4 linked regions of the Homo sapiens genome follow. The protein of the gene in region 2 interacts with the protein of the main gene of each other region in a biochemical or structural test. Each region holds a gene or a part of one and is shown on either strand. Other genes may lie near its edges.

Region 1 (7,530 bases), on a different chromosome or scaffold from region 2:
TGTGTTGCCCAGGCTGGTCTTGAACTCCTGAGTTCTAGCAATCTTCCCACGTGGCCTCTCAAAGTGCTGGGATTACAGGTGTGAGCCTCTATGCCTGCCCTGATTTGCTTTCTGTAACTATAAGTTACTTTCATTTTCTAGAATTTCGTATGGCATACATTATCTCCTCCTTCATGTCTGACTCTTTCATTTAGCGTCATGACTTTGGGATTCATCCCCAAGTAGCTTCTTTGTACTGCAGGGTGGTATTCCATTGCATGGATATAGCACATTTTGTTTATTTGTTCACTTGTTGATGGATATTTGGATAGTCTCTACTTTGGGGTTTTGTGAATAAAGGTACTATGAACATTCACGTACCAGTCTTTGTGTGGATATACATTGAGAATTGATATTTTAATAATGTAGTGCAGGTGACAGACCCTGACTTTAAAAGTTAAATACCAAAATATCAGCCTAACTAAGTAGCTCATCTAGGACAACAGCTCTTTGTAGTTGTTTCCATTTATTTTTAATTTTTCTTCTTATTTTTTTGAGGCAAGGTCTGGTCCTGTCACCCAGGCTGGAGTGCAGTGGCGCAAGCACTGCTCAGTGCAGCCTTGACCTCCTGGGCTCCAACGATTCTCCTGCCTCAGCCCCCTAGTAGCTGGGACCACAGGCACATGCCACCATGCCCGGCTAATTTTTGTTATAGAAACAGCGTTTTGCCATGTTGCTCAGGCTGGTCTTGAACTCCAGGGCTCAAGCGATCCACCCACCTCAGCCTCCCAGAGTGCTGGGATTACAGGCGTGAGCCACCACACCTGGCTGTCTGTTTCACTTTAAATGTCTCCCCTCACGTACATGAAGCTTACTGGAAAGCACTTTAAACTTTAGGCAGCAAACTAGATTTATTGCCAGTATACACATTACATAAGGTAAAAATTAGCCATATTATTTTAAAATTTAAAATGCATATTTTAATCTAAATGGATCCTAGGCCAGATGCAGTGGCTCATGACTGTATCCCAACACTTTGGGAGGCCAAGGCAGGAGGATTGCTTGAGCCCAGGAGTTCAAGACTGCAGAAAGCTATGATTGCACCACTGCACTCCAGCCTGGGTAACAGGGTGAGATTGTCTTTTAAAAAATCAAAAACATAAAAAACATAAAATGAATACTAAAAAAGATCCAATAATAATTAGCTTTATTTTAAAAGGATAATAATTTTTATGGTAATTACCATAGTACCAACCACCATTACTATTACTATATTAGCATATAATAACCCTTTGTATATATAAGCTCAACACATAATAGGTGCTTAATAAGTACAGAAGAAAAGAAATTCTCTCTTTGAGGCCCAGTGTTAAACAGATTAAGCATCATCTCTTACCAATAAATCCCTCTTATATTAACTTACCCTCCTGGGCTGTGTAGATGAGAAAGGCAGAGGAATCTACATCTTTTTACATGCACCTTGGTTGGCGGGGTGTGTGTTTGTGTGTGTGTGTGTGTGTGTGTGTGTGTGTGTGTGTGTGTGTGTGGAGAGAGAGAGAGCCTTATCATAAGGAAGAAAAAGTGTCCTGGAAGTATAGATAAGAAGGATGTGGCATAGATAAAGGACTTTGGGTGGATTTTTGGGTCCTACTCTACATGAAAATACAATAAGCCTACACTGTTTCTGTCACATGTTACCAGTCAGAGTGAAATGAATTGCGTGATCCTGACCTGCTAGTTAACTTTGTTGATCCATTACTTCCCTTCTCTGGTTAGGGGCCTGTTTCCAGCTCCCTGTTCTCGTCATTTCTGTCCTGAGTAGGAAGGACTTTACCGAGGGAGTGTTTCAGGCTTGCAGGCTGACAGCTGCTCTGGACAGCTGTGCTCCCTGAGGCAGAACCCTAGCTGCATCCCCAGCCGTGCAAACCAGAAACAAGCGGGTTAAAAATAATCCTGACCAAGTCATTTTGCCATCACTAATGAGCTCTACAGATACTGTCCTCCTTAATGATAATATATTTCCCTTCTGTCCTGTTGAATTTCATCTTTTCTCCTTTTCTGTCTTTCTCTGAATTTCAACTGCTGATTTTACCTTTGCTTTCCATTTTACTTTGAACAAGTATTTCCAATGGACCCTTCACAAGGACCTATAGCTCAGACTTGTTTTCAAAATCTCAGTGTAAACTGAGGAGACATTTGACATTGTCTGACCTCAAGAAAATTTTCTGAAGAACATTAAATCCTCCATTAAAAATCTTTATTCTGTATATTGGATGTGATGGCTCATGTCTATAATTCCAGCACTTTAGGAGGCCCAGGCAGGAGGATCGCTTGGGCCAGGACTTAGAGACCAGCCTCGGCTGGGCTAAGACCCTGTCTCTACAAAAAAATATATTTTTAAAAAATCTTTATTCTGTAATGTAAGTTCTTTATAAAGGAGTTAAATTGAGGTAAAGTATAAGGATTAGGTGTTATTCTCATACATCCATAGTAATCATAAATGTAGGAATAGAATAAGTTCTATGACAATAACCTATCAAAAACTGCACATAAAGACATTATGAGGACCTTAACCAAATTCACACCTAAGAGGTAAGTTAAGCTACGTCTGAACAAATGGAAAGATTAGTTAATAGTAAAAGTGCCATTAACTGCCTAACAATTGGGCCTTTAACATTAAATAACTTGCTTGAATGAATTTGTCTCCTTATAATGGACACAATCATAGTGACTTTCAAGCAATTAATTTAGAATGCTTGGCATTTCTAAAATTACAAATTTTCTTACTATAGCTAAATTATTTCAGTAACGCCTCCCTAGGAAAGTGTGTCTTCAAGTTGTTTTACTGTTGAATATTTACAAAATTATTACGAAAATTAGCACTACCGTTTTTAGTACAGTACTGCTATTACCTTTTCATGATTTGAGTCTCTAAAGATTTGCTATGTTAATATTATTACCATAAATTAGTTTCAACCATGGTACAAATCTCAGGACGAATCAGTACATTGTACGCACTACTTCTTTTGCCACATGAAAAAGAGGGAAATCAAGAGAAGTCTGAAACAGAAAGAATTGGGCTGACAGCGTATAAGATCTGAATAGAAGAAAAGGAGACAGATCAAAAAATATATATGCATATTGATCAAGCTGATCTTATCAGTCAGACAGTTACATGAGAGAAAGGGATAGCTACCAGTCTCATTACTCAGATTTGCTCTGAGAGGAAGGCCAGTGCAATCACCCACGAGAAGACTGCCTCTTTACCTGTCCATAGTGGTGTCCAGAGTGTCTTCTTGCCTCCCTGCAAGTCTCAGGCCAGAAAAATCTCACTTCAATTAATGATGGTTCTCTGTCTTAGTCTGACAGTGCATTGGCCCTTCACATTCAAATTTGAGCTTGCCCTTTTGGGCTCCTCCCCTGACAGCATCACCCCCACCAGGTACCCCAACGGCCTTGCTCCTGATTTGGATCCAGTGAAGATGGGTGGGTGGGGCTGTCATAGGCAGAGTCACACAGGTTAAACCATTGAGGGCAGCTCTGCTTTAATGTTTAGGTTCCTTTGGGGCTGCTGCTCTAAAAGCCCAGTCCATGCTCCATAGCTAGCAAAGATCAGGAGGCAGTAACAGTAGACACTTCAATTATAATCATGATAACACAAAATAAAAGCACAATGAGAATAGTAATATTTATGTAAATACCTTAAAGAGCATTTAAATAGCTTCTTGGGTTATTGTGTTGAAGAGCCTCAGATAGCCTCTAATTCCCCCATATTCCCACAGTCTCTCTGAACCTCAGTACAGACAGGCACTAGCAGCTCCTGCTTTGCAGTTAAGCAAATGAACTCAGTTATATAGAATTTAGAACACAAAAATTTTGCCTCCCAAACCATGGATTTTTTTCTTTCTGATTGCATTACAAGAATTGCTTGAAGACTAGATATTTACACCAAAGAGTGATTTTTGCATGAGCCATCTTTTTTAGAAAAAAAAAAAATCCTTAATTTGGAGTCAGAAGCAGCAGCAGTCCCCCAAAATACAAAAATGCTTGTTTCACCAGACAGATTCAGTGTCTAACTGGCTGCACTGAATTTGGAAAACAGGCTAAGATCTTCAAATAAAAGACTTTAATTTTGTGCTCTCATAGAACTTGGTCTATTAAAGATTTTATTTCTCTCTCCTACTGTAGCCCATATGCATTCTATTTATTCACTGAGTAGATACTTCATGCCTACTGTTAATGGAAACTATGCCAGGTGCTAGGGATGCAATGCTAAGCAATGCAGCTAGGGTCTCTGCTCTCTTCCTGCCTCAAGCCTTTGATACCATCTATACCTTGATGATTTTCAAATCAATAGCCCTAGCTTGGACCATGTATTCGTCTGTTCTCACACTGCTAATAAAGACATGCCTGAGACTGGGTAATTTATAAAGGAAAGAGGTTTAGTTGACTCACAGTTCCACATGGCTGGGGAGGCCTCACAATCATGGCAGAAGAGCAAGGGACATCTTACATGGTGGTAGGCAAGAGAGAGCTCACGCAGGGGGAAATCCCTTTATAAAACCATCAGATCTTGTGAGACTTATTCACTATCATGAGAACAGCATGGGAAAGACCCACCCCCATTGTTCAACTACCTCCCACTGGGTCCCTCCCATGACATGTGGGAATTGTGGGAACTACAATTCAAGATGAGATTTGGGTGGGGACACAGGCAAATCTATCAGACCACTTCTTGAAACTCAAGACAAGTGTATCCAGCTTCCCTCTCAGAATCTCCATTTGGATGTCTGAGCACCTCCAGCCTGTCTAAAACAGAACCCCTGTTCTCTGCCTTACCTACTCTTCTTGCCGTCTTTCCCATCTCAATAAACAGCAGTATTCTTCCAATTGCTTGGCAAAACCTGGGCAGAGTGTCTCTCAGCTCCTCTCTTTCTTTTAAATTCCATGCACACTCCATTAGCAAATCCTGTTATCTCTGCTTCCAGAATATAGCCACAAACTGACCACTTCTCACTACCTCCAGGTCCAAGCAACCTGGATTATTGCATTTTGCTTCCCAACTGGCCTTCCTGCCTCCCCCTTCTTCGATTACAGTCTGTTCTCCACATGGCAACTAGAGTATTCCTTCTGGAATATTTAAGGTCATGTCACTCCCCTGTCATAACCCTCCATGGCTTCCCATTCTCTCAGTATAGGCCAGCAGCCTGAGATGGCCCACAAGCCCCTCTACCGTCTGCTCTGCTTCACCCCTCTGGCTGCATCTCCTTCCACTCTCTCCCTTGCTCACGCAAAGAGCGCACACTCCTTCCTCTGCCCTTGAGGTCCCTCTGCTGAAATGTTATTTTTTGTGTATGGTTGTGGCTTACACCATCATATATTTTATGTCCTTATTCAAATACTGTCCGGTATTTGAGATTTGTCCTAGTCACCATATCTAAAATGTCAACAAAATCTCACCATTCTGACACTCCCTTGCCTCCATCCCCTAAATTATTTTTCTCTTTAGCACTTATCACTTAAAATACACTCCTAAGTAAACTAAAGACAAGTAAAATAATCTGTTTAAATTATTTTTTAATTAGCCATGAGATTCAAAATAATAATTATAATTATTTCTAATAATTATGTAATAATAATAATTATTATTTTGAGGAGGGTCTCTCTCTGTCACCCAGGCTGCACTACAGTGACATGAACATGGCTCACTGCAGGCCTTGACCTCCTGGGCTCAAGTGACACTCCTGCCTCAGCCTCCCGAGGAGCTGAGACTACAGGAATGTGCCACCACACCCAGCTCATTTTTGTATTTTTCTTTAGAGACGAGGCCTTTCCATGTTGACCAGGCTGGTGTCGAACTCCTGGGGTCAAGTGATCTGCCCATATCAGCCTTCCAAAGTGCTGGGATTACAGGCGTGAGCCACTGCACCTGGCCTTGTCTAAATTATTATTGCTGAAAAAATTCCTCAGGGCACCAGCAAGATAGTAGACGGTAGTTGCCTTTGGCACTCTCAGTTTTATAGGACAGTTGGTCAAGGAGCAGAATGGAGACTCCTAATTCATCTGCAGCGTCAACTGGAAGGTGCAGGCATTTGAAATCTAATCCCTTTAAGTTGTATCCTCAGATGCGAGTTGGGCTTTTATCATATTTTCACCCATTTGTCAAGAGAATAACACACAGGTACACACAATTGGGTTGTTTTATTGTTTTAAATAAAAACGGCACATATTTAAGGTGCATAACATGGTGTTTTGTTATCTGTAATGAAATGATTACTACAGTCAAGCTAATTAACTTATCCATCTCCTCACATAGTAACCTTGTATGGATATGTGTGTGTGGTGACCGCATCTGAAATCTACTGTCTTAGAAAATTTCCAGTATACAATTTTTTTTTTTTTTCGAGACAAGAGTCTCACTCTGTTGCCTAGGCTGGTGTGCAGTGGCATGATCTTGGCTCACTGCAGCGTTGACCTCCCGGGCTCAAACAATCCTCCCACCTCAGCCTCCCGAGTAGCTGGGACCACAGCTGCACACTACCACACTGGGCTAATTTTTTTGTTTGTTTTTTTGTACAGGCAGGATCTCACTATGTTGCTCAGTTAGGTCTTGAACTCCTGGGCTCAAACAATGCTCCCATCTCAGCCAAAGTGCTGTGATTACAGGTGTGAGCCACTGTGCCTGGCCCAATACAATCTTTTTTAACTGTAGTCATCATGCTGTACAATAGAGCTCTAGACTTATTAATCCTGTATAACTGCAACTTTGTACCATTTGAGCAACATCTTCCCATTTTCCCTACCTCCCCATGCCTGCTAACCACCATTTTACTTTCTTTCTTTCTTATTTTATTTTTTTTTTTTTTTTGAGACGGAGTCTCACTCTGTTGCCCAGGCTGGAGTGCAATGGTGTGATCTCGGCTCACTGCAACCTCCGCCTCCTGGGTTCAAAGGATTCTCCTGCCTCAGCCTCCCAATTAGCTGGAATTCCAAGCATGCACCACCACGCCCAGCTGATTTTTGTATTTTTAGTAGAGACGGGGGTTTCACCATGTTGGCCAGGCTGGTCTCGAACTCCTGGCCTCAAGTGATCCACCCACCTCGGCCTCCCAAAGTGCTGAGATTACAGGCGTGAGCCACTGTGGCTGGCTCACCATTTTACTTTCTGCTTCTATGTGTTCAACTTTTTAAGATTCCACATATAAGTGAGATTATGCAGTATTTTTCTTTCTGTGTCTGGCTTATTTCACCAAGCATAATGTCCTCCAGATTTATCAATGTTGTTGCAAATGGCAAGATCTCCTTTCTTAAGGCAGAATGATATTCTTATTCTGATATATATATACGTGCCACATTTTCTTGATCCATTCATCTGTCGACAGACACGTAGGTTGTCTCCATATCTTGGCTATTGTGAATAGCGCAGCAGTGGACATGGAGTTATCTCTTCAAGGCACTGATTTTGTTTTCTTTGGGTATTTACCCAGAAGCAGGATTGCTCAATATGGTAGTTCTGTATTAAAATTTTTGAGGATCATATAGTAGTTCTAG
Region 2 (7,709 bases):
GGCCCCACACTCGGCGGGGCGGACGCCAGCACAGCCCACACCCCTACAACAGCTGAGGCCCGGCTGGCTCTTCCAGCCTCTTCAACAGGGGGCTGCATTACCTGGTCTCTTCCGGAAGCTCCTCGATAAAACCAGACTCGCATCTTGGACAGATATAATCCTGCAGGAGAGAACAGGAGGCCGGGTCACGGTGACGCCGGCATCACCTGCAAACCCCCCCAAGTGTGAGGACAGAGGGGCTCCGGACCCAGCGGTCTCTGGCTGGCCAGGCACACGCAGGCCAGGGTGGCTCCCAACCCGTGGGTCCTGGAGGGCGGCCGAGGGGACCTGGCCTCTGCCAGCCACCCGCTGACCCTTTGGTGGCTCCCGGCGATCTGAGCCCCTCCGACCTGGCCCCACCGTGACGGGCGTCACCAGCGTCATCAGCGCCTTGGCTGAGCCCCTCCGACCTGCCCCACCGTGACGGGCGTCACCAGTGCCTGGGCACCTCCTCACACAGGTGGCACCACTCGGAGGGGTGCCCCAATACCCCACAGTGGCATTTCCAGGACGCTCTGGCAGCCCCGCACACAGCCCGTTCCCCTGGCTCGGGGGAGGCCACGTCCACGCTGGCCACACCCCTGCAAGACCCCATCCCCAGGTCCCCCTAGAGCCAAGGACAACACAAGGCCAACATGGTGATGTCCCAGAGGAGACGTGAGGACCCTGCCCAGGGACAGCCGTGGGTGAGTCCCAAAACCACGTTCACAGTTCCCCAGCACCAGCCTCAAGCCACAGCTGTGCCGAGCAGGACGGATGCCATCCCCTGTGGATCTCACACTGCAACGGGATCCCCAGGGCTGAAGGGCCTGCTGGAGACACTGGCTCACAGGGCGGACTCCTCATGGATGGCTGGGCCCCTGGTGATGGCGGAGCGTGCCGAGCATTCGTGGGGCCTGGGCTGAAACGTGCATGGTGCCTCCCGGCCTCACCAGGGGCTGGGCAGATGCCGACACACACTTCCCGCACAGCCTGCAGAACTGGAAACTGGAAGCTAAATCAACTGCTCTCTATGAACGACCCAGTCTCAAGTGCTCCATCGCAGCAACGTGAAAATGGCCTCACACGGCACGTGTCATCACGCCAGGGGCTCACATGGGGGTCCCAAGACCACCCCCAGGTAACACAGACAAAAACAGGAGACAAGGCTCCCACCGTGCATGGGGGAGTGCTGTGAGGGGAGCCAAGGTCGACCCCAGGCTCTGGGGATGCAGGTTGCACCGGGGCTGTTCAGTCTTCGCAGGGGCAGGGGCTGGGACCTCTCCAGCAAGCAAGATCCCGGCCTCACCCACTGACTCTGGGGAGAAGCGGGGGTCTGGCGTGCAGTGCCCAAGGGGAGGGCCGACAGCTGGGCCCCCGCCCACACCACGCCGTGCCTGCCTCACCTGCTCCTGCCACTGAAGCACAGGCTGGGTGGGGAGGGACTAAGGCCAGGGTGAGCAAACGATGCCAGATGCACATGAACCCACCGTGAGGGGAGAGTGAAGAGGCACCATCTACAATATAGAAAAAGTGCGGCCCGGCTCCTGGTGAGGCCGGGAGGCACCACATGCGTTTCAGCCCACGCCCCACGAATTCTCGGCACGCTCCGCCATCACCGGGGGCGCGGTGGCTCAGGCCTGTAATCCTGGCACTTCGGGAGGCCGAGGCGGGCGGATCATCTGAGATCAGGAGTTGGAGACCAGCCTGGCCAACATGGTGAAACTCTGTCTCTACTAAAAATACAAAAATTAGCCGGGTGTGGTGGCGGGCGCCTGTAATCCCAGCTACTTGGGAGGCTGAGGCAGGAGAATTGCTTGAGCCCGGGAGGCGGAGGTTGCAGTGAGCTGAGATTGTGCCATTGCACTGCAGCCTGGGCGAGGGAGCAAGACTCCGTCTCAAAAAAAAAAAAAAAAAAAAAAAAAAAAAAAAAAAAAGTGCTGGCCGGGCGCGGTGTCTCATACCTGTAATCCTGGCACTTTGGGAGGCCGAGGCAGGCGAATCACCTGAGGCCAGGAGTTCGAGACCAGCCTGGACAACATGGAGAAACCCCGTCTCTACTAAAAATACAAATGTTAGCCAGGCGTGGTGGCACGTACCTGTAATCCCAGCTACTCAGGAGGCTGAGACAGGAGAATCGCTTGAACCTAGGAGGCGGAGGCTGCAACGAGCCGAGATCATGACATTGTAACTCCAGCCTGGGCGACAGAGTGAGACTCCGTATCGGGAAAAAAAAAAGTGCTTACAACTCAAAAGAAAGAAAGAAAGAAAGAAAAAAAAGCCCAGGCCAGGTGCAGCAGCTCACACCTGTGATCCCAGTACTTTGGGAAGCCAAGGTGGGCAGACCATTTGAGGTCAGGAGCTTGAGACCAGCCTAGCCAACATGGCCAAACCCCATTTCTACAAAAAACAAATTAGCTGGGTATGCTGGGGTGGGTCTGTAGCTCCAGCTACTAAGGAGGGGGAGGAGACAGGCAGGAGCGGGAGGCAGGAGGCAGAATGGCTTGAGTCCAGGAGATCGAGACCGCAGTGAGCTGTGGTCCCACCACTGCGCTAGCCTGGGTGACAGAACCAGACCCTGCCAAAAAAAAAAAGAAAAAGAGAAACAGACAACGCAACTAAAAACGGGCAAAGTCGGGAGGCTGAGGCAGGAGAACGGCTTGAACCTGGGAGGCAGAGCTTGCAGTGAGCCGAGATCGCGCCACTGCACTCTAGCCCGGGCGACAGAGTGACACTCCATCTCAAAAAAAAAGAAAAGTGGGGGGGGAAAGGACGTGTACAGGACATGCCTCCAAAAACACGCTGGGTAAACGCAGCCGGCCAGCCCCAGCGAGATGCCACTTCCCAGGGCCAGCCAGGACGAGATGCAAGACCCCGTCAGGCCTGCTGGGAGCCCAGAAGTCCCCCAGATGGAACTACCCCATGACCCACGAGCTAGAACTTTCACTCCAGGCGCAGACCCCAGAGAAACGAAGACACCTGCCCACCAAATGTTCACATGGCCAGAACTGGCAGGTGAGAGTTCACGGCAGCACAGTTCATCATCGTCGTCGGCAGATGCAAACAGCTCCAGTGTCCACCCGCACCTCAGAGCACGACTCAACCATGGAAAGGGGCAAGGCCCAGACCAGGCCACGGCGGGGGGGAGGGGGGATTGCATCTTGAGGACATCACGTCCAGTGAGAGATGCCAGACACAGAAGACCACGCAGCGTGTGATCCCACGTCTATGAAATGTCCAGGACAGGCCGAGCCACAGAGACAGAGAGGGGATGTGTGAGCACCAGGGCCTGGGGGAGGGGACGGGGAGTGACGGCTGGCAGGGCTGAGGTGGGTTCTTTTTGCAGCTGTGAGAATGCTGTGGAATTAGACTGTGGTGGTGGTTGCACAACTTTATGAATATACTACAAACGTTTCACCAGGTGAATTATATGGTGTGTGAAAATACTGAGATAAAGCTATTAAAATAAATGGGCCAGGCGCCTGTGGTCCCAGCTGCTAGGGAGGCTGAGGTGCCAGGATCGCTTGAACCTGGGAGGTGGAGGCTGCAGTGAGCCAAGATTGCAGCAACAGAGTGAGGCAGCATCTCAAAAACAAAAACAAAAAAAAGAAAGAAACAAAGAAAAAAAGGGCTGGGCACAGTGGCTCACACCTGTAATCCTAGCACTTTGGGAGGCCAAAGTGGGCAGATCACTTGAGGTTAGGAGTTCGAGACCAGCCAACATAGGGAAATACCGTCTCTACTAAAAATACAAAAATTAGCTGGGCACGGTGGTGGGTGCCTGTAATCCCAGCTACTCAGGAGCTGAGGCACGAGAATCGCTTAAACCCGGCAGGCAGAGGTTGCAGTGAGCCGAGATCATACCACTGCACTCCAGCCTGGGCCACAGAGTGAGACCGTGTCAGAAAAAGAAAAAGAAAAAGGGAAAGGGGAAGGGGAAGCAGCCAACGACCACCACTGTGGCCCTGAGCTTAGTGTGGGAGCAGTGTGGCTCTGCCACAGTGGCCGTGACAACTCTCCCCAGGCGTCGGTTCTTGGGGTGTGTTTGGGGTGTCGGGATTGGGACGCCCCACGTAAACACGCTGAGACTTCACAGTCAAATCTGAACCCCTGGTTTCTGCCGGTGTCGGGTCTATCGGGGCTCCTCTGGGCTCAGGGGTTGCCGCCGTCCGCCCGCCAGCTGACCGGGAGCCCAGGGCCGCTCCATCGCCTGGGTGGGTCTCTGGGAATGGAGGGGTAGCTCAGGGCTCAGGCTCTCCCTGCATGGTGACTCCCCAGGCTAGCACCACCCAGTGGACCTGGAACAGCTGCACTGGCCCCCACTGAGGGCAGGACGTAAGTCAGCTGTGCAGCTGCCCCGACCACCATCTCTCCTGCTGGGTGCATCCACAAGGTCAGGCAGCCCCAGAAGGGCCTGAGGGAGAAGCTGTCTCCCTCTGAGGACCCTGGCTTGCCAGCCCCAGCCCCGAATCTCTCCTGGACAAGCACGAGGCCCTGCACACGCCCACGTGGCCTGGCACAGCGCTCGGCCGCTCTGGTCCCCATGTGCCGAGCTCAGCCCCTCTGTGCATCACTGGCTTTCTGTCGGGCTCCCGGGTTCCCGTCTCAGTCCAGGGCACAACGCATGCTCCCGCCACCCGCACTGCCGGCTCACGACAGCCCGACCTGGCCACATACACACTCATCTGCCCCAGCCCTGGCCTCCTCTTGGCCCCCGCTGTCCTGCCCGCAGCGGCCGTGGGGCCTGGTGCCACAGCACTGTCCAGAACCCTCTCTCTGCAGCACCCACTCCAGCGTCGGGGCCTGTGCACGTCGGCCCTGCTGCTGGAACGCCCACCCTAGGGGTTTCAAAGGTCACCTCTCTGCTCCAAGCCTCTGCCCTGTCACAGAGGACAGCCTGGACACTCACTCATATCTGAAATCCGGGTGCCATCGAGGACGCCAAGGGCTGCGACCCAACTCCTGCGTATTGTCAGGGCTCTGGGCTGTCTCTCAGGCCCCCGGCCAGCCCCTCCAGGGCCACCGAAGGCCGGAACCGAGGCTCTGGTCACGAAGGCAAGTGACAGGTGGATCCCGGATATCCAGGGTGGAGGTTGAGCCTCTGCTGGCCGACGGTGGGAGGGGCTGGACCTGGGGGTCTCCAGCCGCCCTCCTCCTCCAAGGGCACAGCCAAGAGACCGCTTGGTCTCGTATTAAATCGGGGCAGCTGCAGGTAGAAACGCCTGGGCAAGGGGGCCTGGTGAAGGAGCTGCCCCACCTTCTCCGGGGGCAGCACGCACTGGGGGCCCCCACAGAGGCCCCATTGGAGCCTCTGGCCCTAGCAGAAGACGGTGAATCCATTCACCTCTCCGTCAGAGAACAGATGCAGGAGGTACGATCACCCGGCATCATCACCATAGCAACAGCTGGCCAGGCAGCCAGGGTAGGGGGGACCCTGCCAGTGCCGGGCTCCACCCATGCACCCCTGCAGCGTGATGGCCTCATCCCCGGGTGGGACCTGGCAGGGCAGCAGAGGCCCCTTCATCCACGGGGCCTGCACGGGGCGCATGTCCTGAGGGCCCAGGGCCAGGCGCATGGAGGGGAGTGGGCTGGCGACCTACAGGCCCCAGATGACTGACAGTGACCAGGGCAGGCAGGCCCCTGGTGACAGTGACTCGGCCCCTGTGGGTGGCAGGGCCCTCGGGAAGCTGTGCACATCAGGAGACCCCAGGGAGAGTCATGGTGCAGTGCTCGGCCTCGGTAGGAGCCCCCGTGCTGGCTACTGTTTTCCTAAAGGGTGCCCAAAGCTTCCCGGCTGATCCACAGTGTGTGGGCCCCGCAGCCCCAGAGGCACGGGCACGTGCGGCGCCTGCACCCCTTTCTTCCCGCCCTCAGCAGCTGCCACCACATCCCACATTCACACCGTCTGTCCCTGGGCCCCACGCACCACACACTCCCAAGACAAGCTGGATGGACGAGGCGTGAGCGAAGCCACTGCCTCAGCCCAGGCTGGGGCCCCGCCTCACACCCCAGGGCGTGCCTCGGCCCAGGCCCCGAACTCTGCCTTCTTCTTCCCAGGTGGCTTCAGGCACCACCACTAGGGACTGGAACCCCACAGGTGCCCATCCGTGCCAGTGCCAGGGGTGCTACGGCTCGCCCGAGGCTCAGAGGAAGGTCCTCATGGTGGCAGAGTTCTAAGTGGGAGGAAATTCAGCACCGGCATCTGCCCGAGGCAGACCCCAGCGCCAGCCGGCCAGAGAGGGCAGCCGACATCCACAGGTTCCCGGGGTATTGCTGGTGCCCGATCACAACGCCAGGCTCCATGTTCACAGGGTGCTGCAGGGAGCCCGTTCCGGAGAACCCAGCTGTGCAGAGCCGCTCCAGGGTGCTGGCCGGACGCTTGAGAGGCAGGGGCAGGCTGTCACTGTCACGGTATCTGGCACAACCGCAGACACACAGAGCAAGCAGCGGCCAGAGACAGACCCAGGCCGTCTTCTGAAGACTCGGGCCAGGCCGCCGCAGGGACCAGGAGAAGACAGGGTGGGCCGGGGGGCAGCTGGGGAGACTTCCCGCCTGGCCCCATCAGTGACACTGGCCGTAGCAGCCCTCACTTCCTGGTGGCTCCCCGCCCACGCCGGCTCTTCCCCGCCACCGTGGGCGGCAGGGCCCAGCACCCCCACCGTCCTCTCACCGCCACTTGGGGACACTGCGGAGGTTGCAGGCGTTCGGGGGTGGGGGGTCGGCAGGCAGAGCTGGAACCACCCTAGGAACCACCCAGAGACGGGGAGGTCAGGGGCAAGGACGGCACGCAGGGCCACCTCCCTGCGCCCGCCTGGTTCCTGGGGGCTCAGTGCCCTCAGCAGCTCTCGCCCACACCCTACAGTCACAGCTCCAGTCAGTGCCTCCTCAGCAGGCTCGAGTCTGGGTCTGCGCAGCCGCCTGTGGCCTGAGCTCCAGCTGGCCTGTCTGGTTCCTGCCGCCACACGCCCCACTCTGGCTGACGCTCCCTTTGCTGCTCAGACACCCAGACACCCTCGTCATCGCCTTTTTTTTTTTTTTTTGGAAGGAGTCTTGCTCTGTCACCCAGGCTGGACTGCAGTGGCACAATCTCGGCTCACTGCAACCTCCGCCTTCCAGGTTCAAGCAATTCTCCCGCCTCAGCCTCCTAAGTCACTGGGACTACAGGTGCCTGCCACCACGCCTGGCCAATCTTTTGTATTTTTAGTAGGGATGGGGTTTTACCATGTTAGCCAGGCTGGTCTCGAACTCCTGACCTCAGGTGATCCGTCCACCTCAGCCTCCCAAAGCGATGGGACCACAGGCGTGAGCCACCGCGCTCGGCCTCATCACAGCCTTTCATGGGGGCAACTGCTGCCCCTGTGCCGTCGTCGCCTGAGCCCCCGACCGCAAGTGTGGCTCCCCGCTCAGGACACCCTCACGAGTCACCAGGAGAGCGGCCAGGTGCCGGCCACTCTGCACACACGTGCCCACCAGATGCCACGGGGAGCGAATCGCATCACTAAACCCACTTGGCAGGTGAGGAGACTGAGGCCAAGGCTGCCCAGCAGAGAATGACCCAGCTGCGCGGGGCCTCAGCCTGATCCCAGAGCCCAGGACAGCAAAGGAGGCCCGGAACGGCCCAGCTGCCTGGGAGAAGCCCTCGTGGGCAGGCACACAGCCCATGGCAGCCAGTCCCCCCTGCGTCAGAGGCA
Region 3 (7,709 bases), on a different chromosome or scaffold from region 2:
CTCGTGATCCGCCCGCCTTGGCCTCCCAAAGTGCTGGGATTACAGGCGTGAGCCACCACGCCCGGCTGGTGAGTCTTATTGACTCCTCCTAGTCAAGATCAGCCCTACCCATGTAGGAGCAAAAATAGCAATTACTGTTGTCACTAGCTCACTTGTAGAAATAGACACATATAAGATGGCATGTTGGGTCTGGAGACTTCACATACATATGACCTCCTTCATTTCTAAAGTAGATACCAACTTGCTAGGATGCACTTTTACCTATGCCATTTTAATTGATCCTCTTATAAATCTGAAGAGAGGAGGTTAATGTCACTCATCTCATAGCTGAGGAAACTGCAGCTCGCAAAAGTTAGATATCACTTAAGGACTCTTGGAAAGAAAATACAAATCCAGGATGCTAAGCCAGATCCTTTGTCTCCATATCCAATGAGATGGTGCCTCACTGGGCCAGGAACAGTGACTCACACCTCTAATGCCAGCACTTTGGGAGGCTGAGGCCAGTGGATCACTTGAGGTCAAGAGTTCAAGACCAGCCAGGCCAACATGGTGAAACCCCATCTCTACTAAAAATACAAAAAAAAAAATTAGCTGGACATAGTGGCACGCGCCTGTAATCCCAGTTACTCGGGAGACTGAGGCAAGAGAATCCCTTGAGCCCAGGAGGTGGTGGTTGCAGTGAGCTGAGATCGTGCCACTGCACTCCAGCCTGGGTGACAGAGTGAGATCTCTCTCAAAAAAAAAAAAAAAAAAAAAAAAAAAGATGCTGCCTCTGAGCAGGGGTTTTTAACTTGGGATTAAGTGGTCTCAGGGGGCTGCAGACACTTCCAGCTTGAAGCTGGAATGGTACTCCTGAGTATGTTAACTTAAGTGTAGCTAAAACTGCCTCCTTACCTATTTTGAGTTCGGATCTAAGGGCTTCTCTGTACATAGTGAACTGCAATCTACTCTTGTACCAATCACCGAGTTTTGGCTAATCAAAGGCGGCCAACTGTTCAAACCAAGTTTAAGGCAAACACCAAGCTGTAACCAACCTGGCTGTTTCTGTACCTCACTTTCATTTTCCTTTTTCTTTTCTTTTTTTTTAAGATGAAGTCTCGCTCTGTCGCCCAGGCTGGAGTGCAGTGGCGGGATCCTGGCTCACTGCAAGCTCCGCCTCCCAGGTTCACACCATTCTCCTGCCTCAGCCTCCCAAGTAGCTGGGACTACAGGTGCCTGCCACCACGCCCGGCTAAGTTTTTGCATTTTTAGTAGAGACAGGGTTTCACCGTGTTAGCCAGGATGGTCTCGATCTCCTGACCTCATGATCTGCCCGCCTCGGCCTCCCAAAGTGCTGGGATTACAGGCGTGAGGCACCGCACCAGCACCAGGCCCTCACTTTCATTTTCTGCATGTCACTTTCCTTTTTCTGTGCATAAATCCTAAATCCTCTCCAACCACGTGGCACACCGTGGAGTCTCTCTGAACCTATTCTGGTTGCAGCCTTCCCGATTTATGAATCATTCTTTGCTGAATAAAACTCTGTTAATTTGTTTAAAGTTTTTTTTTTTTTTAACAGGTGAGTATGGAAGTTTTTATTGGGAGAGGGACCAGAGCAGTCATCAGATTCTTAGAGGGAGGTCCTGATCCAAAAAAGATGAAGAACCCTCAGTTCTAAGACAGTAATATGCTGACACCTTAGTGAATAAAGAACATGTCAACAAGCAAATCCTTATTAAAATATCTAAGATGCCAGGACTCCACCTGGGAAAAAAAAGAGGTCAGCCTGGAGGTAACTTCAGGTAGTGGGGTGACTCTAACAGTCTCCAGGCAGATTTTACTAGGTCAAGTAGAGCGGACTCCACAGCTGCCTAGTGACAAGAGGTCCTTTCAGCTCTGGTAGAGTGTCTTCTGTAATGACCAGTGCCAGTAAGGGGTGATGCCTGGGCCAGACATTGGCATCCACCTGTTACCTGGACCACTTGATCAGACGACACACCAGTTAAGAAGCCACTTAAGTCTCCCACTCCACAGAGAGAAAAAAGAACAGATGTCCTCTTGGGTGTATCTGGATTACTGCTTTCATTTGTCTATGTGGCCAGTAGCGAGTTGGTAAAAGGTGTATAAATGCTGAGAGGCATCAACGAAAGCATGTTTTGGAAAAGTCTCATTTACATATGAATCAATATTTATTAAGTCCCTACTATGTACTTGGCACTGTTCCAGACACTGGGATCAAAGAATGGACAGTGTCCCTGCTGTTGAGGAACTCAGTGTGTTATAGGTGGTAGCTGACGTGTAAATAGACAATTATAACACAGAGGGATCAGTGCTCCACAGAGTCAACCTCAGAGTGCTGGGCAAGGGAGAAAGGAAGGACCGTGTCTGCTTGGAGTATCTAGGAAGGCTTCACAAAGGAGGTAACTTCTAGCTATATCTCAGGGGAGGAAAAGACTGCTCTCCCACAAAGCTCAAGTAATAATATTATCAAACATGAAATACATAAATTAGTTAGCACCTGAAGGACTCTAATCAGGAATTCATACTCTAGGGTACAGAGTTAGCATTTCAATGTAGTTAATCACAAGTCCAAACTATAGATGGCAGCCACTGTATAGCTTTAGCTTTCTAAATCTACACTTAAGCATTTGCTAATTAGTAAATGATTTGTTAGAAATAATTTTGCCCTTGAGTGATACTCAAGGTATATGAATTGGCTAGAAAAATATAGGCATCTCTTCCTTTGAAAGAATGGGTTACAGAATCTGGAAAGCCTACTAGCCTAATGTTGTCTTCAGAGAGACAATCTCAGGGCAGGAATCAGGAAGGTTCTCTGACCCACTACTGGGAGCAGAAGGTTTTGTCGCCTGGTTCAAATTGATTCAATGATGTGAGAAATAAAAACAAAATTCTAAGCTCCCAACTGACTCAACAAACTATCTTTTGGCCAAGGGGAGCCCAGAGATATCTAAAAAAAATTTTAAGTTTTGGCCATGATGGGAAAGGAGTTCAAACAGGACTCGTTCTATTCCCTCCCTAACTGCCATTAGTTTTTTTTCCCCTAAGGGCTAAATAGAAACTAGCCCTTTCAAAAAAATTATTTCAGGCCATGCATGGTGGCTCATGCCTGTAATCCCAGCACTTTGGAGCTGCCTGTAATCCCAGCACTTTGGGAGGCCAAAGCAGTTGGATTACCTGAGGTCAGGAGTTCAAGACTAGCCTGACAACATGGCAAAACCCAGTCTCTACTAAAAATATAAAAAAATTAGCCAGGCGTGGTGGCAGGCGCCTGTAATCCCAGCTACTCGGGAGGCTGAGGCAAGAGAATCACTTGAACCCAGGAGGTGGAGGTTGCGATGAGCTGAGATCACACCACTACACTCCAGCCTGGGCAACAGAGCAAGACTCCATCTCAAAAAGAAAAAAAAAAAAAAGACTCACTTCACCACTGGTATCAACTCATCACCTAATTCTGCCCTTCCTTTTTAGTGGTTTCAGCACAACTGACTAGCATTCCTTCCTGATAACCACTGACCACAGAGTGGTCTAAGACAGGGTCTTGCCCTGTCATCCTGGCTGGAGAACAGTGGTGCGATCATGGCTCACAGCTGCCTCGAACTCCCAGTCTTAAGTGATGCTCCTGCTTCAGCCTACCAAATAGCTAGGTTATGTAGATATGCAGTCTCATTTTGTTGCCCTGTAATACATGTTAGTGTTAAGTTTCTGCCTAAGGTGAACATGGGAGACATGCTGCACACGTTAGCTTACTCCACATGTGTGCATATTCATAGATCCTCCCTTTGTGAATATTCATAGATCCTCCCATAATCTGTTGAATATGTATGCTTAGCTACGCCTCTCAGCATAAATTCATGTTCCCTTTGCCCCTTCTTGGAAGTGCTTGTTTTTCAGTTATGGCCAGAGGCTCTGCTTCCTGCCTACAGGTAGTGGGACCCTCTTTAGAAATAGTCCTCCTTTCTAAATTTATAGATTTGTGGCTGGGTGTGCTGGCACACACCTGTAATCCCGGTGCTTTGGGAGGCCGAGGTGAGAGAATCGCTTGAGGCCAGGAGTTTGAGACCAGCCTGGGAAACATAGCGAGACCCATAAATAAAATAAAATAATTAGCCGAGTATGGTGGCATGTGCCTGTAGTCCCAGCTACTAGGGAGGCTGAGGTGGAACGATCACTTGAGCCCAGAAGCTTGAGGCTGCAGTGAGCTATGATTGTGCCACTGCACTCCAGCCTGGGTGACAGAGCGAGGCCCTGTCTCTAAAAATAATAATACTAAATACCATATTTTTATATAAATATATTTAATTAAATATAAATATATTTGTGACTTTTTCAGTTCAATAGAAGTAAACCAAAAGATGACTTTTGCCAGGTGCCGTGGCTCATGCCTGTTAACCCAGCACTTTAGGAGGCTGAGGCGGGTGGATCACTTGAGATCAGGAGTTTGAGACCAGCCTGGCCAACATGGTGAAACCCCATTTCTACTAAAAATACAAAACTTAGCCCTGTATTGTGGTACATGTCTGTAATCCCAGCTACTCAGGAGGTTGAGGCGGGAGAATCGCTTGAACCTGGGAGGCAGAGGTTGCAGTGAGCTGAGATCACACAACTGCACTCCAGCCTGGGTGACAGAGCTAGGCTTCAACTCAAAAAAAAAAAAAAAGAAGAAGAAGAAGTAAACCAAACGCAGCTGCTAGAATATTGGCACATTTGCTTCTAACAAAACATTCATGCAAAGTACTCTGGTCAAACTGGGGCTTCACTAATCCTATAAAAACAGGTTTCATGACTGTTTTTGTAGCTTGCTAATCAATGTCTGCATGTGTGGGCAGAGTTTAGCCTGCAACTTGGTTTCCCTGCAGTTACAGGCTCTAGTAGAGGCTAGGGGAGAGAAGGCCCTTAACTCCCCCACCTCTGATCAGGCTGTGGATGCTCAAGTTGGTAGGTCAGTTTGTAAGAGTTCCCAAGCAGCCCGGCCCTCTAGGGCTGCCTGTGCAAGCACTTTAAAGCCCTGCCCAGGCACTACTGCATTTTTTGCTGCTAACAGCAATTACTGAATCTACTTGAAAGGCATTCAATCCTTCCCTGCTCCATTGCTCCTTTTTTGTTTTTTCAATTCCCTCACTGTCCTTATAGTCAGGCTTGATACCTTCTCTAAGACTTGGTTGCCTCCTCCATTATGTGGAGTGCCTTCTCCATTCAGTGCTCCCGCTGCAATTTCCAATACTATTTCTATCGCTTTAGTCTGATGGCTGATTGTCCTCAACAATTCCATGATTGAATCCAAAATGCACGCTTCGTGACATTTTCTGGTATTAGTCAATTGCCATCAAGAGGATTAACATCTTTGAGGAGCCAGGCGCGGTGGCTCACACCTGTAATCCTAGCACTTTGGGAGGCTGAGGTGGGAGGATTACTTGAGTTCAGGAGTTCAAAACCAGCCTGGCCAACGTGGTGAAACACTGTCTCTACTAAAAATACAAAAATTAGCTGGGTGTGGGGGCGTGTGCCTATAATTCCAGCTACTTGGGAGGTTGAGGCAGGAGAACTGCTTGAACCCGAGAGGCAGAGGTTGCAGTGAGATCATGCCACTGCACTCCAGGCTGAATAACAGAGGGAGACTCTGTCTCAAAAAACAAACAAACAGACAAACAAACCAACCAACCCAGAAAACCATCTTTGAGGGATTTTCTCCCACTGGCAAAAAAGAACTACTTTAAGGCCTAAGCAATAATTCTAAACCCAAAGGCAGACCCTTGCCCAAATCTGCCACCTGGTGGCCAGTCGATAAAGACCAGCACTTCCCTGGCTTCTAGGATCTGGGGCTAATGTTTCATCCAACTCAGAAGTTCTCACACCAGGCCGGACCTGGTGGCTCACGCCTGTTATCCCAAAACTTTGGAAGGCTGATGGGGGTGGACCATTTGAGGTCAGGAGATCGAGACCAGCCTAACCAACATGGTGAAACCCCGTCTTTACTAAAATGCAAAAATTAGCTGGGCATGGTGGCAGATGCCTATAATCCCAGCTACTCGGGAGGCTGAGGCAGGAGAACTGCTTGAACCCAGGAAGCGGAGCAGTGAGCCGAGATTGCGCCACTGCACTCCAGCCTGGGTGACAGAGTGAGACTCCTTCAAAAAAAAACAAGTTCTCATACTAGCTGCATATTGGAATCATCTGTGGAGCTTAAAAATCCCAGTGCCCTGCCCAGGTCATGCCACACCCCAGACCAAGTAATCAAAATCTCTAGGAATAAGACCTAGGGATACACATTAGAATCCCAGGTGAGCTTTTCAAAAATATGCTTCCCAGGAATGCACCCGACCTACCCCATCACTGTCTCACAGGAGCAGGGCTCAAGTCTTTGTAATCTAAATAACTTTTGGGCAGTTATCTTATCCCTACTGAAGAACTACGGGTCTAGTTTGTTGTTCCCTCCATCTGCCTGCTGGACAAATACACACTCAGGCCCCTCTCTGATTTGCCTTCATGGGTATCCACTGAAGCTGGAAAATGAGGCTCAGAGAGGCTGAGTGACTTGCCCAGAGTCACAACAAGCCTGGTAGAGCTGGACTGCAGCTTGAAGCCTAGTCTTGTCTTATCTATCTTATCTATCTATCCAGCTATCTATCTATCTATCTATCTATCTATCCATCCATCCATCCATCCATCCATCCATCCATCCATCTATGACAGAGTCTCGCTCTGTCACCCAGGCTGGAGTGCAGTGGCGTGATTTTGGCTCACTGCAACCTTCACCTCCCGGAACCCTAGTCTTTTAATCCTACCTACAACTACATGCTACTTGATGCTTAGCTCTGCTGGAGGGAAATTCTTCATTTTAGTGAACTAAAATTCTTAGAGGGGGAAACAGAAAAATAAAAGAAGTCAAGAGGTACCCCAAAGGAGACATCATAGTCCTCAAACGTGTATGGCTTGTCTGCAAGGTCTTCAAAAAACTCTGCTAAAGAGTCCAGCGTTTCCTCTGCTAGTCTTTCATAGGTGGTCTCATCTAGAGAGCTGCAGAGGAAGCACAAAACCCAAAACATGATTACCAAATGCTTCCATTTTATTAATATCAAATTTATACATTTGTTATTTAAATTCATTAAATTGATGAAAATAACATGTAAAAAGTAAAAGTTTTTCTTTCTTTTTTTTTTTTTTTTGAGACAGAGTCTCACTCTGTCACCCAGGCTGGAGTGCAGTGGCTGGTCTGAACTCGTGACATCAAGTGATCCACCACGTGCCTCAGCTTCTCGAAATGTTAGGATTACAGGCGTAAGGCACCGTGCCCGGCCCAAAGTAAAAATTTAAAGGCCGGGCGTGGTAGCTCATGCCTGTAATCCCAGCACTCTGGGAGGCCGAGGCAGGCAGATAACACGGTCAGGAGATCGAGACCATCCTGGCTAACATGGTGAAACCCCGTCTCTACTGAAAATACAAAAAATTAGCCGGGCGTGGTGACGGGTGCCTGTAGTCCCAGCTACTCAGGAGGCTGAGGCAGGAGAATGGCGTGAACCTGGGAGGCGGAGCTTGCAGTGAGCCGAGATTGCGCCACTGCACTCCAGCCTGGGCGACAGAGCGAGACTCTGTCTCAAAAAAAAAAAAAAAAAAAAAAATTTAAACAGCACAGAAGGGGTTACAGAAAGAAGCAGGCAGCCCCCATTCCCAGAGGCAACTACAATTAATAGTCCTTTCTGGGCCAGGCAGTG
Region 4 (7,709 bases), on a different chromosome or scaffold from region 2:
TCAATAAAGAAAAAAAGCTTTTTTTTTTGAGATGGTCTTCCAGGTTGAAGTGCAGTGGCGAGATCAGCTCACTGTAACCTCAAACTCCTGGGCTCAAGGGATCCTCCTGCCTCAGCCCCTCCCAGCAGGTGGAGCTCCAGGCACGCACCATCACACTCGGCTCATTATTAATTTTTCTGAAGAAACAGGGTCTCACTTTGTTGCCCAGGCTGGTCTCAAACTCCTGGGCTCAAGCGATCCTCTCGCCTCAGCTTCCCAATGTACTGGGATTACAGGCCCGAGCCATCGCACCCTGGCAAGAAAAAAGTTGTAAGAAACTGTTAATAGTGGTTACCTTTGGGGATAGAGACTGATATAAATGGAAAAGGAACGGGAGTGGAGAGGTGGAAGAAGGAAAAAGGAAGCTTTCATTCTTCACTGAATAGCTTTCCTACATATAAAAAAGTTGTTAAACAACTTGCGGTGGCTCACGCCACAAACCCAGCACTTTGAGACGCCGAGGCAGATGGACGGCTTGAGCCCAGGAGCTCGACACCAGTTCAGGAAACATGGCAAAGCCCTGTCTCCACAAAAAAGTAGCCAGGCATGGTAGTGCCAGCCTGTAGTCCCAGCTACTCGGGAGGTTGGAAGGATCACCGGAGCCCGGCCGTCGAGGCTGCAGTGAGTCGTGATTGTGCCACTGCACTCCAACCTGCATGACAGAGTAAGACCTGTCTCAAAAAACAAAAAACCCCAAAAACCTGGATTAGAGCAAATATGTAACAATATGCAAAACAATTTTACTTTAAGTAAAGCAAAAATGTTATCAATAGCTTCTAATTATGGCAACGCCATCTCTTCTGTTCTTTGAAAACCACAGTCAAAGCAATCGGAATGTTAATAGTTAGCTTTCCGTATCAGCAGGTTCCAAACACTCAAATCCAACCAGCCTGGGGTGGAAAAGACAATATTTGTGGGATGCAGAACCTGGAAATACAAGGAGCTGACTCTTCCCATGAGCGGGTTCTGCAGCAGCGCATACCAAGGGATGACCATACCTTAGCGTTCCCTCCTAAAACTTACAATATCAATGCTTAGCTTTCTTGCCAGTTCCTCATCACTTTTCAGTTGTTCTTCCATCGCTCTTCGCCTTTTTTCTGCCTGTCTTTTTTCCTCTTCTTCCTCCTCTGCCAACAACCTCTGTATGTATTCTTCACTGGCTTTGTTTTCTTCTTCCTCGCTGGCCCGTCGCTCTGCCGCCACCTTAAAAGTGATTAATAAAGAGCAATCCTTCTCTGAACGTTTTGGTATACTTGCAATATTTCATAACAAGAATAGAAAAGTAGAAAAAGAACAAATTGGCAGAAATTTAAATGATCTCAAATGAAGTACAAATCTGGAGAAGTAGATTCCTGCAAGATAGCTGTCCCATCTCAGCCTCCCAAAGCACTGAAATTATAGGTGTGAGCCTCCACACCTAGCCTGAGATGTATTACAAGTGAAAATTATACACAAAATTTTGAAGACTAACAAAAAAAGAGAAAAATCTCTATTTATGTATAACTTCATATGTAATTAAAACATAATGCTTCACTATAAACACTGCTTTTTAGGTACTTTTCCTATTTAGGAACTTCACAGCTAGCCCTTTAACCTTTCCTCATCTAAACTCACACTCTACCACCCTTTTACTTTAAGCTCAAAACTTTGGGGAAATAAAAATATATCCTGGTATGGATTAAATTAGGAAAAAGAAGAATTAAAAAATTTTCTTCATATGTAAATGCTTAGGGAACACTATCACATAAGAGCATTAATTATGTAGAAGTAAATTACAGCAAAAAACAAAGCCCTTATAAAGTACATTAAAATTATCCATATTTTGGCCAGGCACAGTGGCTCACACCTATAATCCCAGCACTTTGGGAGGCCGAGGCGGGCGGATCACAAGGTCAGGAGATCGAGACCATCCTGGTGAACACTGTGAAACCCCATCTCTACTAAAAATACAAAAAAATTAGCCAGGCGTAGTGGCGGGCGCCTGTAGTCCCAGCTACTCGGGAGGCTGAGGCAGGAGAATGGCATGAACCCGGGAGGTGGAGGTTGCAGTGAGCCGAGATTGCGCCACTGCACTCCAGCCTGGGTGACAGAGTGAGACTCCATCTCAAAAAAAAAAAATTATCCATATTTCAAGATATACTAGTTATATAAGCACAAAAAACTAAATTAAAATCTGAAACTAAAAACACAGCAGAGAAATATTCCAAAAAAAAAAACTATTTAGCACCTACCTTGCTTATTTCCTCTTCATATTCTCTTCTCAGTTCCCCAGGTTTACTGAGCAGACGAACTGGCTGATAGTCATCAGCTATTTCATATCAAAAAAGAAAATAACATTATAGGCAACACAATTTTATGGTAACTTTGGTCTTCCATTAAAACGAAAAATTAAAATATACAACTATTAATAACTGCAGCAATATCTCCTTTTGGAATTCCATTTTTAACATTTATTTTATTTATTTATTTTAGATTTATTTTATTTATTTTTTTTGAGACAGAGCCTTGCTCTGCTGCCCAGGCTGGAGTGCAGTGGCACAGTCTCGGCTCACTGCAACCTCCACCTCCCAGGTTCAAGCGATTCTCCTGCCTCAGCCTTCTCCTGAGCAGCTGGGATTACAGGCATGCGCCACCACACCCAGCTAATTTTTTATATTTTTGGTAGAGTCAGGGTTTCACCACATTGGCCAGGCTGGTCTCGAGCTCCTGACCTCAAGTGATCCACCCGCCTTGGCCTCCCAAAGTGCTGCGATTACAGGTGTGAGCCACCACGCCCGGCCTGGAATTCCATTTTGTGAGGCCAGAGGTTTAGGGTTTTGGGTTTGAAATGGCATATGAATGCATATACTTAACCCTTCCTCTAAACTCCATTAAAATAACAGTAAAGGAATTTTTAAAAACTGTAATCCTACAACAGCAGAAATTAGCAGAGGAGGTTAACTGATTAAAAAAAAATGTTTTTTTTTTTTGAGACAGAGTCTTGCTCTGTCACCCAGGCTGGAGTGCAGTGGTGCAATCTCAGCTCACTGCAACCTCCGCCTCCCGGGTTCAAACAATTATTGTGCCTCAGTGTCCTGAGTAGCTGGGATCACAGGCATGCCCAACCATGCCCAGCTAATTTTTGTATTTTTAATACAGACCGGTTTTTGCCATGTTGGCCAGGCTGGTTTCGAACTCCTAATGTCGGGCAATCTGCTCACCTCAGCCTCCCAAAGTGCTGGGACTACAGGCGTGAGCCACCGTGCCCGGCTCCAGTTAAAAAATTTTTAACAAATTTCTAGAAAATGGGAAGGCAATGAAATAGAGATAATTGATACAGCAGAAATGAAGGAAAAGAAATCCTTGAAAGGGAAGACTACAGCTGAGGTAGAATTAGAAGGGAATCTGCCTCCTATTTGCCTAGAGAGAGGCTCATAGAGTCCAGAGTGAGTAACCGTGGGACTGAAAACAGAACTCGAGATTTATAAGCTGTTAAATCAGAATCCTCGACTTACCGGCATTTCTCCCTGGATATGGGTGCAGGTGCACACACGCATATTTCTTTAAAGAAACAGATCTAGAGAGAGCCAGAGCAGCTAATGTAATAGGTGGTGACCCAGAGCAAAGTCCTCTGCGATCGGGCAGTTAGGGATGGCAAAGCACAAAGGCCAGGTTTCCATCGGCTTGAACTCAACGTCTGCCCATCACCAATACCCTTCCACATACACAGAGCTTTTCTCCTGGGCCTCATTCTCAAACCTAAAAGCTAATCCAAGGATCGTCAGACATTTGAAATACATCTGCAGGACTAGGGAAACAGTAAGCTATACAAAGAGAAAAAATCATCACCCTGGAGTTGAAAGATAATTCTGGGTCAGAAAATAACCTAAATGTGGGTATGTATCCTCAACAAATCTGATGAGAATTTTATTCTATAAAACAAGACACTGTTTTATAAAGTGTAAAAAGGGAACATCCAAAAAAGAGAACGCATCTGTCTGTTTCAAGGGGCAGCTGCTACTCAACTCCAGCTGACTACGACTACCAGGAAACTCAGGCCTGTCCGTGCCATATTTTTTGCTTTCTCAAGAAAATCCAGAGGCGGCAGGGGTGGATGGTGAGAGATGACTTCATGGGTACAATGTACATTATTTGGGTAGCAGATACCCTAAAGAGCCCTGACTTCGCCACTGTGCAATCTATACATGTAACAAAATTACCCTTGCACCCCATAAATTTATCCAAGTAAAAAGAAAAAAAAAAAGAAAATCCAGCAATCAAGATGTTAATATGAAATCTTCCAACTTAAATAGTGGCATTGGATGGGTCACAAAAAACATGCACACAGGATTCCTATGGCCTGCAGGCCAGCAGTTTGAAAAATCTGCAACAGAGAGACTAAAAAACAGTGATGTAACTCCAAAACAATTAGGGATGCAGTATGCTGAATTCTCATTTATTTTAGTCACTAAGGAGGATCTATTCAAGACAATACAATGGTATACACAGGAGAGACATATATAAGGCTCCTTAAAAAGTAGAAGGATAATCAGCTGGCTTAAACTGAGACCTAGATCAGCAAGTCTTAAAGTAGAATCTACGAAACCCTGGAGGTATCTGAGACTTTTTTTCAGGGAAACTGCAGAGTCAAACTATTTTCATTTAAAAAATTAAAGTAAGCTGGGAGCGGTGGCTCACGCCTGTAATCCCAGCACTTTGGGAGGCTGAGGCAGGCGGATCATGAGGTCAGGAGTTCGAGACCAGCCTGGCCAATATGGTGAAACCCCGTCTATACTAAGAATACAAAAATTAGCCAGGCGTGGTGGCACGCACCTGTAGTCTCAGCTACTCGGGAGGCTGAGGCAGTAGAATAGCTTGAACCCGGGAGGCGGAGGCTGCAGTGAGCCGACATTGCACCACTACACTCCAGCCTGGACGACAGAGGGAGATTCCGTCTCAAAACAAACAAACAAAGAAACAAACAAAAAACCCAAATAAAACAACTGACAGTAGGCCGGGCACAGTGGCTCATGCCTGTAATCACAGCATTTTGGGAGGCCGAGGCAGGTGGATCACTTGAGGTCAAGAGTTTGAGACCAGCCTGACCAACACGGTGAAACCCGTCTCTACCAAAAAATACAAAAAGCCGGGAGTGGTGGCAGGCACCTGTAATTCCAACTACTCGAGAGGCTGACACAGAAGAATTGCTTGAACCCGGGAGGCGGAGCTTGCAGTGAGCCGAGATCACGCCACTGCACTCCAGCCTGGGCGACAGAGGGAGGCTCCGTCTCACAAACAAACAAAAACACATGTTCAACATTACTAGTCATTAGGGAAGTGCAAATCCTGAGTACGGAGATACCGCTTCAGAGGACAGCCAACACTTGGTTTTTTTTTTATAATAGTCATCCATTAAGATATATACACACACATAATGGAGTATGCGGCCAAAAAAGGAAATGGAATGGACACGTGCTAGAACACGATGGACCTTCAAGACACTACGCTGCGTGAAACAGCCAGTCACCAAAGGACAGACACTGTGTGGGGTTCCACTCGTACGAGACACCTAGAGCAATTAAACCCGTAGAGGCAGAAAGAATGGAGGTCGCCAGCAGCCAGGGGAGGGGTGAATGGGGAATTAATTATTGTTTAATGGGCAGTTTCAAGCGTGGAAGATGAGAAAGTTCAGAGATGAATGGTGGTGACGGCTGCACAAAAACATGAATGTACTTCATGTCACGCAACTGTCCATTTAAAAATGGTTAACATGGCGGATTTTATGTTATGTATCTTTTACAATAAAACTGGAAAAAAAGTAAATCACTTTACACATTAGATACAATAAAATAGTAGCTAAGAGGCTGGGCACAGTGGCTCATGCCTGTAATCCCAGCACTTTGGAAGGCTGAGGCAGGAGGACCACTTGAGCTCAGGCTATCAAGACCAGCCTGGGCAACATAGCAAGACCCCATCTTTGTTCAAAAAAATTTTTTTTAAGTAGCTAATTTAGGAAAACAATAATAAGACAGATGTATTATACTAGAAAGCAAAACATATCATTAAGCAGAATTAAACTAAGCATGTGTGGTACTGACACAGCTACTGATAAAGAGATAGTTAAAAAATAAAAAGCCCAGGCAAGGTGCCATGGCTCATGCCTGTAATCCCGGCACTTTGGGAGGTGGAGGCAGGCGGATCACTTGAGGTCAGGAGTTCAAAACCAGCCTGGCCAACAAGGCAAATAACCCTATGTCTACTAAAAATACAAAAATTAGCCACGTGTGGTGGTGCACGCCTGTAATCCCAGCTACTCAAGAGGCTGAGACAGGAGAATCGCTTGAACCCGAGAGGCAGAGGTTGCAGTGAGCCAAGATCGCACCATTGCACTCCAGCCTGGGTGACAGAGAGAGACTCCATCTCAAATAAATAAATAAATAAATAAATAAAATAAATAAATAGCCCCAAATTGCTCTGGAAAATAAGCATATGATTAGTGAAATAGTACGTATATCAATGTGGCTGTATTACTACCAAGTAGTGTGGCTATTAAGTGGCAATCAAGGGCAGGGGGAGTTAAGATGCCTACCTCATACAATACTCGAATTCAAGGTGGATTAAAAAATGGAAAAAAACAAAACTATAAACGACTAAGAAGAACATATGAGATAAATTCCAAAACAATTAAAACTTCCATGTGATGAAAGACATCACAAAGTTAAAAACAAACTAGAAGTTATTTGCAAATACATAAATCACCAGAGAATTAGTGTCCAGAATATAACTAGAACTTCCACAGATCAATTAAAAACCACAACAGGCAAAGGAAAGGCACGTGCGATTTACAGAAGATGCCCAACTACAGCAAGCAGAGAGCTGAACTTTTGTTAAACCGTGGAATGACAGATTTTTAAAGTTTACTTATTTCTACATAAACTGAATCTAAATTAAGATCAGTGAGTTATTCAACTGCAGACACAAGTTAAAATTGTCTTCATTTGCCTTTTTCTTTTGTTTTTGGAAACAAGATCTCACTCTTGCCCAGGCTGGAGTTCAGTGGCGGGATCATAGCTCACTGCAGCCTCCAACCCCTTGGCTGAAGCGATTCTCCTGCCCTAGCCTCCTGAAGCACTGGGATAACAGGTGTGAGCCACTGCATCCAGTCCATTTGCTATTTCTTTTTCTTCTTTGACGGAGTTTCGCTCTTGTTGCCCAGGCTGGAGTACAATGGCGCAATCTCAGGTAACTGCAGCCTCCACCTCCCGGGTTCAAGCAATTCTCCTGCCTCAGCCTCCTGAGTAGCTGGGATTACAGGCATGTCCCACCACGCCCAGCTAATTTTTTGTAATTTTAGTAGAGACGGGGGTTTTACCATGTTGGCCAGGCTGGTCTTGAACTCCTGACCTCAGGTGATCCACCTGCCTTCCAAAGTGCCAGGATTACAGGTGTGAGCCACCGTGCCCAGCCTTCCATTTGCTATTTCTTTCTTTTTTTAAATTTATTTTTTTTTTTTTTTGAGACAGAGTCTCACTTTGTCACTCAGGCTGCAGTGCAGTGGTGCAATCTCAGCTCACTGCAGTGTCCACCTCCCAGGCTCAAGCAATGCTACTGCCTGAGCCTCCCATGTAGCTGAGACTACAGGCGCCCACCACCACACCCGGCTAATTTTTGTATTTTTTGTAGACGGTTTT

The links.
Region 1: of the proteins of RNF126 (region 2) and AICDA, one has a biochemical effect on the other in vitro, tested with the Homo sapiens proteins (one study listed by BioGRID).
Region 3: of the proteins of RNF126 (region 2) and FXN, one has a biochemical effect on the other in vitro, tested with the Homo sapiens proteins (one study listed by BioGRID).
Region 4: the proteins of RNF126 (region 2) and RNF168 form a complex in vitro, tested with the Homo sapiens proteins (one study listed by BioGRID).

Annotation. Positions count from the first base shown.
Region 1 is NC_000012.12:8,609,514-8,617,043, forward strand, and holds the start of AICDA (single-stranded DNA cytosine deaminase), read right to left. Parts: upstream 3,347-7,530; 5' UTR 3,255-3,346; coding exon 3,247-3,254; intron 1-3,246. UniProt on the Homo sapiens protein: Single-stranded DNA-specific cytidine deaminase. Involved in somatic hypermutation (SHM), gene conversion, and class-switch recombination (CSR) in B-lymphocytes by deaminating C to U during transcription of Ig-variable (V) and Ig-switch (S) region DNA.
Region 2 is NC_000019.10:652,725-660,433, forward strand, and holds part of RNF126 (E3 ubiquitin-protein ligase RNF126), read right to left. Parts: intron 161-7,709; coding exon 102-160; intron 1-101. UniProt on the Homo sapiens protein: E3 ubiquitin-protein ligase that mediates ubiquitination oF target proteins. Depending on the associated E2 ligase, mediates 'Lys-27'-, 'Lys-29'-, 'Lys-48'- and/or 'Lys-63'-linked polyubiquitination of substrates.
Region 3 is NC_000009.12:69,052,445-69,060,153, reverse strand, and holds part of FXN (frataxin, mitochondrial isoform 1 preproprotein), read right to left. Parts: intron 7,015-7,709; coding exon 6,894-7,014; intron 1-6,893.
Region 4 is NC_000003.12:196,486,337-196,494,045, forward strand, and holds part of RNF168 (E3 ubiquitin-protein ligase RNF168), read right to left. Parts: intron 2,348-7,709; coding exon 2,271-2,347; intron 1,243-2,270; coding exon 1,063-1,242; intron 1-1,062. UniProt on the Homo sapiens protein: E3 ubiquitin-protein ligase required for accumulation of repair proteins to sites of DNA damage. Acts with UBE2N/UBC13 to amplify the RNF8-dependent histone ubiquitination.